4 linked regions of the Homo sapiens genome follow. The protein of the gene in region 4 purifies or fractionates together with the protein of the main gene of each other region. This does not show direct contact. Each region holds a gene or a part of one and is shown on either strand. Other genes may lie near its edges.

The links. Proteins that work in one complex are often made in the same cells at the same time.
Region 1: the proteins of SPANXN5 (region 4) and DESI1 purify together in Homo sapiens (affinity purification with mass spectrometry; one large-scale study listed by BioGRID and IntAct). This does not show direct contact.
Region 2: the proteins of SPANXN5 (region 4) and LIG1 purify together in Homo sapiens (affinity purification with mass spectrometry; one large-scale study listed by BioGRID and IntAct). This does not show direct contact.
Region 3: the proteins of SPANXN5 (region 4) and FTO purify together in Homo sapiens (affinity purification with mass spectrometry; one large-scale study listed by BioGRID and IntAct). This does not show direct contact.

Annotation. Positions count from the first base shown.
Region 1 is NC_000022.11:41,604,044-41,607,543, forward strand, and holds part of DESI1 (desumoylating isopeptidase 1), read right to left. Parts: exon of another isoform or gene 3,483-3,500; coding exon of another isoform or gene 3,445-3,482; intron 3,289-3,444; coding exon 3,219-3,288; intron 111-3,218; coding exon 1-110. UniProt on the Homo sapiens protein: Protease which deconjugates SUMO1, SUMO2 and SUMO3 from some substrate proteins. Has isopeptidase but not SUMO-processing activity. Desumoylates ZBTB46. Collaborates with UBQLN4 in the export of ubiquitinated proteins from the nucleus to the cytoplasm.
Region 2 is NC_000019.10:48,163,845-48,167,344, forward strand, and holds part of LIG1 (DNA ligase 1), read right to left. Parts: intron 1,780-3,500; 5' UTR 1,723-1,779; coding exon 1,706-1,722; intron 1-1,705.
Region 3 is NC_000016.10:53,819,156-53,822,655, forward strand, and holds part of FTO (alpha-ketoglutarate-dependent dioxygenase FTO), read left to right. Parts: intron 1-3,500.
Region 4 is NC_000023.11:52,795,644-52,798,857, forward strand, and holds SPANXN5 (sperm protein associated with the nucleus on the X chromosome N5), read right to left. Parts: upstream 1,785-3,214; 5' UTR 1,706-1,784; coding exon 1,631-1,705; intron 989-1,630; coding exon 845-988; 3' UTR 501-844; downstream 1-500.

The sequences.
Region 1 (3,500 bases), on a different chromosome or scaffold from region 4:
CGGAACAGGGACTCCCCCAGGGAGGAGAGGTACTCCAGAAAGATTTCTTCTGTGACTTCTGTACTCCCCACATCAACCACAGAGTCTGGAGGCCCAAGCAATGTCCCTCCCTAAAAGAGCCAACCCAAAGGAAGTCATTAAGTTACCATCTCCACTGAATGTTTTAATGTGGCTTCCCACAGTAGACCACAAACACTCTGTTCTGACTTTTTTTTTTTTTTTTTTTTTTTAGACGGAGTTTCTCTCGTCACCCAGGCTGGAGTATAATCTCAGCTCACTGCAACCTCCGCCTCCCGGGTTCAAGTGATCCTCCTGCCTCAGCCTCCCAAGTAGCTGAGATTACAGGTGCCTGCCACCATGCCCAGATAATTTTTTGTATTTTTAGTAGATACAGGGTTTCACCATGTTGGTCAGGCTGGTCTCAAACTCCTGACCTTAAGTGATCCACCCACCTCGGCCTTCCAAAGTGCTGAGATCACAGGTGTGAGCTACTGCGCCCAGCCTGACTTCATATTTAACTTGCAGAGCACCCTGGGCAGATGAAGAATGTGATTTGCTATTTGTATCAAGGATGCAATAGCTTAGAAGCATTGGTGTCCAATCCTTTGGCTTCCCTGAGGCACACTGGAAGAAGAATGGTCTTGGGCCACACACAAAATACACTAACACTAATGATAGCTGATGAGCTTAAAAAAAAAAAAAGATAAAAAAATCTCATGTTTTAAGAAACTTTACAAATTCACGTCAGGCCACTTTCAAAGCTGTCCTGGGCTGCGTATGGCCCACAGGCTGCAGGTTGGACAAGCTTGGCTTAGAGCTTTCTGGTCACTTTTCATTGCCATGTGCTGGCAGCATAGTTAGGAGTCGGACTTCTTGTTTCTAGAGGGGAGGGGGGGCCCTGGGAAGCTGATTCTCTTGCAGCTCTGACTCCTGATGCTGTCCACTTACTCAGCTGAGAAAGAGAAACCCAGAATCTGAAGTCTACTTTTGTCCCCAGTATGTCTCATCATGAGGACAGAACAGGACAACAGAAATGGCTCACACTTCACAGGCCATCTCTCCATGCCTATTTGCATAAAGTATGCAGCCAGTTTTTCTTATGATATACTTGATATCCCGTGTAATAATGGAAAAACGAGGACGGTGAGAAATCTGGCAGGCTGGCAGATATTTCCATAATTCAGTTCTTTTTGGATCTGTGAGCCTAATCCTTGCCCTATCACCATCATAGGGCAAGGGAGTTAATGGCTCCCGAAAGGCCTACAGAAAACCCTCAGCCATGTGGTTAACAGACTGCCAGAGAAAACTGAAGGAGAGACTGAGGTTGAGTGGGGAAACCAGCCACTGGGGAAGCAACGGGATCAGCAGGAGAACAAATCTGGGAAGGGATAACACTCCAGAACAGAGCTCCCTGAAAAGATCATTCATTCATAGCCACTGAGCACCTCCTACATAGCTGACATTGTTCTGGGCACTGAGGAAAGCATGGTGAGCAAGATAACCATGGTAGGCAGAGAACAATTATCTCAGAGTTGTAAGAAACTAAAAGGTCACTCTTTGACCCCTCTTATTCACTCATATAACAACTATGGATTGAGAACTTATTATGTGTCAGGCCTTATGCTAGGCACTGGGGCTGTGGTGTGGACAAAATAGATGAGATTCTTGCCGTTAAGAAGCTTAGTGTAGCAGGGAAGGGAAACTGAAAAATCCCCTTAACCAGTATATAATTATGAGCTGCAATTAAGGGGAGGCTGGAAAAGTACAGAATGCCAACAGTACGTATGACAGGAGACCTTCCCGGTCTGAGGGATCAGGGAAGACTTGCCTGAGAAAGTGACACAACTCAAATCTGAAGGATGGAGAGGCGTAACCAGGTGAAGGATCAAGAAGGTGTACTGATGTCAGAGTGCAGGTTTCAATGTCTACGGTGTGTTCAAAGAATGAGAAGAGAGTGAGGGTTGGGAGGGAACAACCTAAAAGAGGCTGGCCAGAGTCAGAGTCAGAGACCAGATCAGGTAGGTCCTGGGAGGCCATGCTGAGTTTTCTGGCTTTTATTCCAAAAGCAATGGGAGAATTCTGGCTTATGCAGTAGATTGCTTGAGCCCAGGAGTTTGAGATCAGTCTGGGCAACATAGGGAGATCCTATCTCTAAAAAAATAGAAAAAAATAGCAGGGCGTGGTGGTGCTGAGTCCTAGCCACTCAGGTGGCTCAAGTGGGAGGATTCATTGAGCCTGGGAGGTGGAGGCTGCAGTAAGCAAGACTGTGCCACTGCATTTCTGGCCTGGGTGACAGAGCAAGACCCCGTCTCAAAAAAAAAAAAAAAATCCTTCCTGTAGGATGTAGCAAAAACAAACAAACACACAACCAAAATGAATGGCTGCTTGGCCATTGCTTGAGCACCTACTGTGACAACACTTGGATAGCTGATAGAAATTTTTGGAAAAGGCTGGGCGCTGTGGCTCACGCCTGTAATCCCAGCACTTTGGGAGGCCGAGGTGGGCTAATCACGAGGTCAGAAGTTTGAGATCAGCCTGGCCAACATGCTGAAACACCGTATCTACTAAAATATACAAAAAATTAGCTGGGTGTAGTGGCAGGCACCTGTAATCCCAGCTACTCGGGAGGCTGAGGCAGGAGAATGGCGCGAACCCGGGAGGCGGAGCTTGCAGTGAGCCGAGATCGCACCACTGCACTTCAGTCTGGGCGACGGAGCGAGACTCCATCTCAAAAAAAAAAAAAAAAAAAAAAAAAAAAGAAATTTTCGGAAAAGGGTGTGGGCTTTAGTGTGATAATCCTGGGTTCTAGGACTGGTGTCCCTTATTGGCTGTTTAAGTTTGGGCAAGTCTTGATGCTTCTCAGAGCCCTCATCATTCAGCTTAACATCAGTTGCGTTCCTAGGATGAGCCGGACACTGTGCAGGGGATGGAGATGGAAGGTCTCAGCTCGCAAGGAGCTTACACAGTTCCCTGTGGAGAACCAGAAACAGCTCATTTCACCATAACATGCTCTCTGTGAGACAGAAGGACCCACACGTGCCATGGGAACAGAGAGGAGAGGAACTGGCTGGGGTGTCTGGGAAAGGTTTTATTGAGCCAAGTCTTCAGGTGGCTTTGAGGAACAATGCCAGAAGTCCATAGTAGAAGCAAAGCTCCTGGTCTACAGGAGCCCCCAGGAACCTGAGACTGCAGGACAGAGTGTAGGGGAAGACACTCACCGGGGGGCAGCTGGAGATACCACCACTGCCGAAGAAGAACTCATCCTTGTGCACAACTATGGATGTGTGCCTGTCACACAGAGAGAGACACAGTAAGCCAGAAAACTTAAACTTTTGAGAAAAAGCAAACACCATAATGCAATGAGAGTAATTTCTGCCCAAGGATAGGACTGTGGGGACCAGTCTTATAAAACCAACAAACCAAAGGTATGAATATGATAAATACCACAGATCAGGGCTTCTCAATCTTGGCACTATTGACATTTGAGGCTGGATACTTCT
Region 2 (3,500 bases), on a different chromosome or scaffold from region 4:
TGAGGCAGGGGAATGGCCTGAACCTGGGAGGCAGAGCTTACAGTGAGCCAAGATCGCGCCACTGCACTCCAGCCTGGGCGACAGAGCAAGACTCTGTCTCAAAAAAAAAAAAAAAAAAAATGTTGGAAGGCGTGAACATTAAAAAAAAAATCTGGTGAAATCTGAATAATAAAGTATGGAGTTCAGTTAAGAGTAATGTACTGACATTAGTATCTCAGTGGTGAGAAACGGATCATAGTAATGTATGATATTGACAATGGAAACTGGCCAAGGGTATACAGGACCTCTCTGTACTGTCTTTGCAACTTTCCTGTACCTCTAAAATTATTCCAGAATAAGAGGTTTATTTAATCTTCAAAAAGAAAAGGAAAAATCATGCAAAAGCCAGTGGACAGAAAGCAATCGAAGGCACCATCAGCCCTGGAGAGACAATCCCCAGATTCCTCATCACGGGAGAAAAACGGAACCCAGCATTTGTGTAAGCCACTACCGCCCAGGTTTCTGGGATGGATGCCCTTGTCTGGGTCTCTCTACCATCCATTTTTTCCTCCTGGTAACAGCCCCTCCGTTTTCCTCTTGGGATGCTTCTTACCCCACATTCTCTCAGTACACACGATTTGAGTGGGCTGGCCCTTTTGCCTGTGACCAGGGGTGGACACGTGATCCAGGCTGCATCCCTGTGGCTGGTTCAGGGATAGGTATGTGGCCCAGGCTGGGCCAGTGAAACTGGGCTCTAACACCCTCTTTCCAAGGGGACCGCTAAGAGGGGAGAGCCCGCCTGAGGGTGAGGACAACCTCAAGGACAGTAGAGCTGAACAATGGAGAGAGACAGATTCCCAGGGAGGAAGTTTTGGCAACTGGATCGAACCAAGCCTGAGGCTGTTTACTCCAGCAGGTTTCAATGATATAAGTCAAGTCATGCCCTTTCTTGTCTTCCTGAAGCCGGACTGCATTAACACGAGGTTTCTCAACCTAGACACTATTGACATGTTGGGCCTGATGGTTCTGTGTTGTTGGGGGGGCTGTCCTATGAATTGAAGGATGTTTAGCAGCATGCCTGGCTTTTAGCCACTAGATGCCAATGGCAAACCCTCTGTCCCTAGGTTGTAACAACCAAAAATATCTCCAGACACTGGCCGGGCGCCGTGGCTCACGCCTGAAATCCCAGCACTCTGGGAGGCCGAGGTGGGCGGATCACGAGGTCAGGAGTTTGAGACCAGCCTGACCAACGTGGTGAAACCCCGTCTCTACTAAAAATACAAAAATTAGCCAGGCGTGGTGGCACGTGCCTATAATCCCAGCTACTCAGGAGGCTGAGGCAGGAGAATCACTTGAACTCATGAGGCGGAGGTTGCAGTGAGCCGAGATTGCGCCACTGTACTCCAGCCTGGGTGACAGAGCAAGACTCCAACTCAAAAAAAAAAAATCTCCAGACGCTGCCAGATGTTCCCTGGGGAGCAAAATTGCTGCTGACTGAGAACCACTGCGTTAGGGTTTCTGCTCCTTGCAACTAAAAACTGTTGTTCAATACACTGTCTTCCATATCCCACGGCTCATTTTCCATACTACTTGACTCCTGGAAATTCCAACTCAAAATCTAACGTAAGAGTTTTTGTTTGTTTGTTTGTTTTTTTAAGTACAGATTTAGAGAAAGAAACAGAGGACTTGGAGAAGGAAAGACTCAGGGGCAAGGGAGGGTGCTCACATGATACTTCGCTGCATGTTGGCGTCAGAATTCTCCCTTCCTGTCCAGCACTTTTCTTCGTCTGTCAGCTGCTCCTGGAACAGAAATCCAAACACTTGTTGAGGTGATTGGTTGTGCAGAGATCTAAACACACATAAAACCCTTTCTTTAAGAAAGAAAGAAAAAAAAAAACAGAAACATGAATTTCCCCTTCAAAAAGAAACTCCTGTTTTTATGAACCAAAATAATTTGCTGGTGAGATTTACTGGTGCAGAATAAAAGCTCCAAATCAGAGAAAAAGATAAGAGGCCTCCTTTACCATAAGAAGACTGTTTTTCATCTAATATGAGGAATAGACTGAGGACCTGAAATGGGTTTTTTTGGAGTTAAGTTTAAAGGTTAGTGAAAAATTGTTTTAAGGTGATGACATAATTCCGTGAAACAACTGTGGAAGCTTATAAAATTGTACCCGCTGGTCTACATAAATTAGCTCTTGGGCAGTTTCTAAGGTATGCTGTTATTTCAAACAAAGGGCAGAATATCACAGAGTGTGTGCTACTGAACTGTGTAAAAGAGAAAGGCTATAGGTCAGGCACAGTAGCTCACGCCTGTCATCCCAGCACTTTGGGAGGCCGAGGTGGGTGGATCACTTGAGGTCAGGAGTTCAAGACCAGCCTGGCTAACATGGCAAAACCCTGTCTCTACTAAAAATACAAAAATTAGCCAGGTGCGGTGGCACGCGCCTGTATTCCCAGCTACTCTGGAGGCTGAGGCAGGAGAATCGCTTGAACCCGGGAGGTAGAGGCTGCAGTGACCCGAGATTGTGCTACTGCACTCCAGCCTGGACAAGAGTGAAACTCCATCTCAAAAAACAAAAACAAAAGAAAGACTATAAATGTATCCACATATCTTGTATATGTACAGAACATCTCAGTTGGAAGACAAAAAACTGGTAATGCTGTCGCCTCAGGAGGGACAGACGCTGGAGGGAGATTTTTTAATATGCATGCTTTTGCAGGCAGAACAATTGGAATACGTTACCCCTTCACAATATATTTTTAAAAATTAAATACTTTTTTAAAAAGTCTGTTATTTAATGAAATCAATAACAGTCACTGGGGCTTCCACAGTTTAGAGTAACTCTAATGAAAGGGTTCCTAGGCCGGGCGTGGTGGCTGCTGCCCATAATCCCAGCATTTTGGGAGGCCGAAGCGGGTGGATCGCCTGAGGTCAGGAGTTCGAGACCAGCCTGGCCAGCATGGTGAAACCTCATCTCTACTAAAAATACAAAAATTAGCCAGGTATGGTGGTGCACACCTGTAATCCCAGCTAGTGGGGAGGCTGAGGCAGGAGAATCACTTGAACCCAGGAAGTGGAGGTTGCAGTGAGATCATGCACTCTAGCCTGGGCAACAGAGTAACACTCTGTCTCAAAAAAAAAAAAAAAGAAAGAAAAAGAAAGAAAAAGAAAAAGAAAAGAAAGGGTTCTTAATCTGGGGTCCACAAAACCCAGGAGTCCAAGAGCAGAACTCAAGTGGTCTATGAAATTTGACAGGAAAGAAATTACGACTTTATTCTTGTAAACTTCTAATTGGAACTGAGCCTTTCCTTCCATTATAAATATTAAAGATATAAAAAATTATAAATTTTCTATATCTTTAATATTTATAATGGAAGAAAATAAATTACACATTATAATTATGTAATTATAATTATTTACATTATATTTCCTTCCACTATGAATATATTTTTTAAAAAAGGACTAGCAGGACCTCTGCGTGGATTGCTTGAGTTGAGACCAGCTCAGACCAGCCTGG
Region 3 (3,500 bases), on a different chromosome or scaffold from region 4:
ATATATTTTCCAACTTTGATACAGTTAATATTTATTTATTTATCTATCTTTGAAATGGGGTCTCACTCTGTGGCCCAGGCTTAGGCTCACTTCAGCTTCCACTTCCTGGGCTCAAGCCATCCTTCCACCTCAGCTGCCCAAGTAGCTGGGACCACAGGTGCATGCCACCACACCTGGCTAATTTTTTTGTATTGTTAGTAGAGAGGGGATTTCACCTTGTTGCCCAGGCTAGTCTCGAGCTCGTCAGCTCAAGCAATACACCCGCCTGAGTCTCCCAAAGTGCTGGGATTACAGGTGTGAGCCACCACGCCCAGGCAGTTAATTTTTTTATGTGCTAAGAGGCTTCTCTATTAATTTGCTTGTGAATGGGTGTGTGTGTGTGTATTTAAATTTTTAATGGTTCTGCATTAATGTTTCTGCATTCCTGCCATATAGGTTGTACTTTTTTTTTCCAGTTTGTTTGCCTTTTAATTTTATGATTTATTTTATACAAAAATTTAAATTTTCAGATATTCACATCTATCAATCTTCTTTTTCAAAAAGTTTATTGATTAACTGTATATGTGTATAATTTACATACCATAAAATGCACGTTTTGAAATTGTACAATTCAGTGATTTTTGGTAAATTTCCAGAGGCATACAACCATCATCACAGTAGTTTTAGAACATTTTTAGCACCCCAAAAAGATCTCTCATGCCTCTTTACATTTAGTTTTCTTTCCTGCCCCAGCCAAGATCTCCACTCATCTGCTTCAGTCTTTTAAAGCTTTTATTCTTAGAAAGGAGTCTTGAGCACTTATGTGGAACCAAGTGATGTGGCTATAACAGATACTAATGCTATTTTCTTCTTCTTCTTTTTTTTTTTTTTTGAGATGGAGTCTTGCTCTGTCACCCAGGCTGGAGTGCAGTGGTGTGATCTCGGCTCACTGTAACCTCTACCTCCCGGGTTCAGGTGATTCTCCTGCTTCAGCCTCCTGAGTAGCTGGGATTACAGATGCCCGCCACCACGCCCAGCTAGTTTTTGTATTTTTAGTAGAAACAGGGTTTTACCTTGTTGGCCAGGTTGGTCTCGAGCTCCTGACATCAGATGATCCAGCTGCCTCGGCCTCCCAAAGTGCTGGGATTACAGGTGTAAGCCACCGCTCCAGGCCACTAGTACTATCTTCTTTTAGGAGCTTGTGATCTTACAGGACAGATTATTAAACTAATAATAGTTTAAATAAATATAGTTACAAATAGATAAGTGCTACAAAAGAGAAGTAAAGCGTGGGGAGTGATAACAGAGGGCACCTATTTGAGGGTGGAGATTCAGGAAAGGTTTCCTTTTTTTTTTTATTATACTTTAAGTTTTAGGGTACATGTGCACATTGTGCAGGTTAGTTACATATGTATACATGTGCCATGCTGGTGCGCTGCACCCACTAACTCATCATCTAGCTTTAGGTATATCTCCTGATGCTATCCCTCCCCCTCCCCCCACCCCACAACAGTCCCCAGAGTGTAATATTCCCCTTCCTGTGTCCATGTGATCTCATTGTTCAATTCCCACCTATGAGTGAGAATATGCGGTGTTTGGTTTTTTGTTCTTGCGATAGTTTACTGAGAATGATGATTTCCAGTTTCATCCATGTCCAGGAAAGGTTTCTATAAGAAAATGACCCAGGGATGGGAAGGACCATCCAGGTGTGGAGTTGGGGGAGGAGCCTGGGGGAAGTATTTAAGAGCTGGACACTTGAGGACTGCAGGAATAGAAGCACATATGGTCAGAGAGAAAGGGGACATGATCTGAGTGGGAAAAAAATGGAATATTTTCCCATGCCATTATTTTCTTTTTATGCTGTTTTTTATGTCAAGGTATTTACAGATGATATTTATGTGGTTATATGTTTTTCCTGGTCTATAGGGTTATAATTTCCCCATATTAAATATATCTTATGCAGTGTTGAGACCCAGTGTATGTTGAATAAGGGCAGCAGAATTTTAATGGGGGGTGGGCAGGCGTTTGTGCATATGAGTGCATTATTTTCAGTATTCCTTTCTTAGTCCCAGAGGGGAGTGTGTTCAGAAACAGAGTTCTTGGGAATTACCATACTTTTCTTTATTGTTTTATACTAAGGACCATTCAGAGAGTACTGGAGGTGTTAAGACAGTGTGAAGAAATTACCTTCTTCATCACTTCTTCATCATTGCTTTGAGTATACTGGGGCCTCAGGGACTTGCTAAGAAAGTAACCAGTATAGTGATAGAATTAGAGTTGCTGCTCATGGCTTCAGAATATTTGGTCTCTGCTTACAGGATTGCATTGCTTTCTTCATAAGCTATGTAAATAGAAAGTACGATATCACTGTTTCTGTTTTCCAATGGGGATAACTAAAATATGGAAACTCAATCCTTAATGGATCCCTGACAATCTCAATGACAATCCATAGTGGTATGCCACATGACTCTTCTCTTTGTCACTTTCAATTCATGGTCAACACCTCAGATAGGCATTTTGAGAAGCAGGGCAGTCCTACCACACTTACCTAGTAAAGTCATTTTTTCACATTCAGACTTGACTCATTCATTTTTCTTCTGCATACTTCCTCCCACTTTCTGCATGTCTTCTATAATATCTCCTGCACTCTGCCTCATTCAGAACAGGCTAGATTATGCTATAGTAACTGATAACTCTCAAATCTCAGTGGCTCCACACAATAATATTTCTTGTCCATTTTATGTATCATTTGTGGGTTGGCACAGAGTCACTACCCATTAAAGTAGCTCAGAGATCCAAGCAGCCACCAGCTGGTTGCTGTGGCAGAGGGGTGCAGAGTATGCTGGAGGGTCTTGCAGTGACAATGACATGTTCCAGGCTGGAAGGGATGGCCATCATTTTTCACTGGACAGAAGTAATCCCATGTTTCATCCATCCTGAGGGGACCAGGAAGTGTAATTTTACACTGGGCCCAAAAAGCTGGGTGGCAGAGGAGGAATCCAGAACTATTTGGCAAACAGCTCTAATGACCAGCATACATTCTTAGCTAGTGATTCACCTTAACTTCATTGAGAAAGTCAGAGCATTCTCTAACTACCACCCCTCCAAAAGAAACCCTAGAACGTACTCATCTGCCTACTATTATTACATTTATCATCCTATCTGAATTCATACCTTCTTTTTCCTTCTAGCCTATTCCAATATAAGAAGTATCTTCTCTCCTATCCACATATTTTTGATCACATACTCTTATCAGTAGATAAGCACATACAGTGACATCCTAGAAAGTGTTTAACAAGTGGCCTGTAGGGGGAAAGAACCAGCCTTGATTTTTAGTGTTTTTTGATTTCCGCAGTGTAAATACTCTCACTGTGGACAGTTTCAAGCCACCGTCACGGTGTTACTGAATGTGCAGTTGGAAAGAGATGCACACAGTGGGCTCTCATGAGCCAGTGTGGACTGACTCCAGCACACCACCAGTAGTGTGCTGGTGGTAGTACTCATGTACTCGTGTCTGTTTT
Region 4 (3,214 bases):
TGAGGTGATCCACCCACCTCAGCCTCCCAAACTGCTGGGATTACAGGCGCAAGCCACTGTGCCCGGCCCTATAACCAATGTTTTTAATTGTATCCCTCTAGAGAGAGTGAGCAGAGGTGTCTGTGTATGTCTGTATTGTGCTTTGTGTTTTACAGAACATTAACTCTTTATAAAGCATATATTTCTAACCTAGGAAAATATCAAATGGAAAAGGGATGGGAATACCTTTGATATGTACATTCAGCAGAACTATGTGCTGCCGGGTACAGTTGCATGAACATATACACATCTCCACTTCCTGTGGGAGGAAATTTTAAGAAGAAAATTTTCTTTAGGAATCAGTGCTCCCCCAGGCCTTATTTACAATGTCTGGCTTACTGTCAACCTGTGAGTCTGTCCACCAACCCTACAGGACCTCATATCCCTCCCTTCTCAAATGCCTACCTCTTCCCTTCCCTTCTCCCCCACCATCAGAAAACAGGCATAGATATATGCAGCCATCAGCTTCTCAAACTTGATTTTATTGTAATCATCACCGTTGGTGGTGAGGATTTGTCCAATTTGGTTTCTCCATGTTTAATTAGTCTTCCTCACCCTCCTCTGACGATCCTTCAGATGAGTCTGGGTCTTCTTCCTCCATCAAAGATCCTTCAGATGAGTCTAGGTCTTCATCCTCTTGTGAAGATCCTTCAGATAACCCTAGGTCTTCATCCTCCTGTGAAGATCCTTCAGGTAATTGTAGGTCTTCATCCTGCTTTGAAGATTCTGCAGATGAGTCTAGGTCTTCGTCCTCCTGTGAGGATCCTTCGTCCTCCTCCTCTTGGACTGGATTGATGGAGTTCTCTCAGGACTGGTCATTCTCGAGTTGATTTGAATGTATTTTCTTAGTCTTCCTGTAGCACAACACTAATACTGTTGAATATTCTGATGTTTTCATCTTTTTCAAACTCGGTTCGAGGACTAAGTCCCTGTTTGGTGTCTCCTGCATCTGTTAAGAAAACAGGGAGAGGCCAGAAAGACATTATTTTGGGTGAATAGGATAGAGACTGGATAGCAAGGGGGGCTTTATGAGAAGGAATGCAGGTTGAGGAAGGGGTTCGATCCAGAGAAGAACAAGGTTGACTCACAGGGTAGGGATCTATGGGGAAGAAGAGGAGCATGGGTAGGGTCATCTGTTAGTCCAAACTGCACCATTTTGTAAGTTCTTTGCTATTTTGCAGACCTTGGTCAAAGTGAAACATCCCATGGGGGTTCAGGCCGTGAGAAACATCCTGCCTAACCACCTGTCCACAAGGCAGACAAAGGCCCAACTAAAGAAACATCCCTATCATATCTTGCTTGGCAAAGTTCTAAGGAACACCACAACGATATTCCACCAGAAAAAGGGCCAAACCACCTGATCATAAGAACATCTTATCAATATCCTGCTGGGCAGCAAGCCATGCTGCCCAGATCCCTCCCACCCATACCTGTAAGTACCCCAGGCTGTAAGCGGTGGTGGGATCTGGCATTAAGCTGGTCCCCCACTTCCACAAGCGTCTGCAGTATTCCTGTGTTGCTGTTTGAGCTGCCCCCTCTCTGTGTGTCTTTCTTTCACCCTCGCCTTCACTTCAAAACCTAACAATCTTACCTCATCATTTTTGCTGTTGGAGTCACAGGGGCTCTTCCTCTTCTCCCCATTGGTGCTTGAAGTGGGCTTTTCCATGATTCTGGTTGGTTGTTGAATGTCTACAGCAGGATCTTGTAGAGTCCAGACTTCCACAGCTATATTGAAGCTTCCCAGTGGCCCAGAGCTCTTGCCCTCCCTATATATACCCTCCTGGTGACAAGGCAAAGCCACACCCTTGAGCTTTGTTTGATCATACAGGCAGTGTCCCAGCCAATGGCAGTCCAAGGGTGGCTTAGACATCACAAAGCACCACTGCTGACCACTCCCTGGGCTTGTGGGGGAGGGGTGACAGGGGTGTAGAGGAAACCAAATGCTGCTGTTGTTTCAGCATCCCCTGAAGACGCATCCCAAACTGATCTGCTGCCGCTCCTCATTTCTCCATGTTTAATGTTCATGGTTCACATGGAAGTGAGAGGTTGATTCTGTCAAGCCCTTCCCCACAGCCATTCCTATTAAGTGATTCATTCTTTTGTCTTCCAGCCCTCACCATGACTTAGTATTTTAGATGTCTCACCTCAAATCCCCCAAGCTAGTGTGGCTACATTTAATTATTGGTGGAGATGTGAATTATCCCATTTCCCTCTTACAGTTCCTTCATATGCACCTTGAAGACCATTTACTCTTGGGCTACTGCCAGGCAAATTTCAACCCATGTTCTTTTACCCAATGTCCATGTAGTTCTTTTAAGTTTCCTATTTCCAATCTGAAACAATGGCCTCAGTCTGTCAAAACTTTAGTGAATTAACATTCTTTACCTTGCATCCTAGTCTTGTTTCAAATCAGGGGTGTATGTTCATAGTAAATGTAGTATCCCAACATGAATTCTACCAGTATGTGGGGTGGGGGAAGGAGTAAATATTCAAGTGCTGGAAGTTGTCCTGAGTATTTACCTGCAGGATACTGCAATCTAAGACTAATATGTGCAAGAATGTGGGCATAGCTAAGCTTTGCACTGGAGATTGTGTCCAGTGACAAAAAAAAATGCATTCAGATTGGAAGGGAGAAGTAAAAGTATCTTTTGTCAAAGACTACATGAGAGTGTATGTAGAAAATCAATCTAAAAAAAATGCTTCTACAATAATTGAGGTTAGCAAGATTGCAGAGTAAGCGATCAACATATAAATCAATTGTATGTTTATCTAGTAGAAGTTATATATTAGAAATTTGCATCCAGTTTTCACCTATAGTCATCATGTCAATATGAATAATGACACATTTTTCACCGGAAAGTATTCCCATTTGTATAATTAATTAAATGGTAATATAAGTTTTAAGGTATCACTATCATTATTGGCATTAAGACGTGAAAGAGTTATACATCATAAGCAGTGAGGCAAAGAAAAAGACATGGAGAGGGAAACAAAATCGGAGAGTAACACATCTGGAAAGCTAAATATTTGCTTCTAAAAGTGACTGTTTTTGGCTGGGCGCAGTGGCTCACGCCTGTAATCCCAGCACTTTGGGAGGCCGAGGCAGGCAGATCACCAGGTCAAGAGATCAAGACCATCCTGGCTAACACGATGAAACCCCGTCTCTACTAAAAAT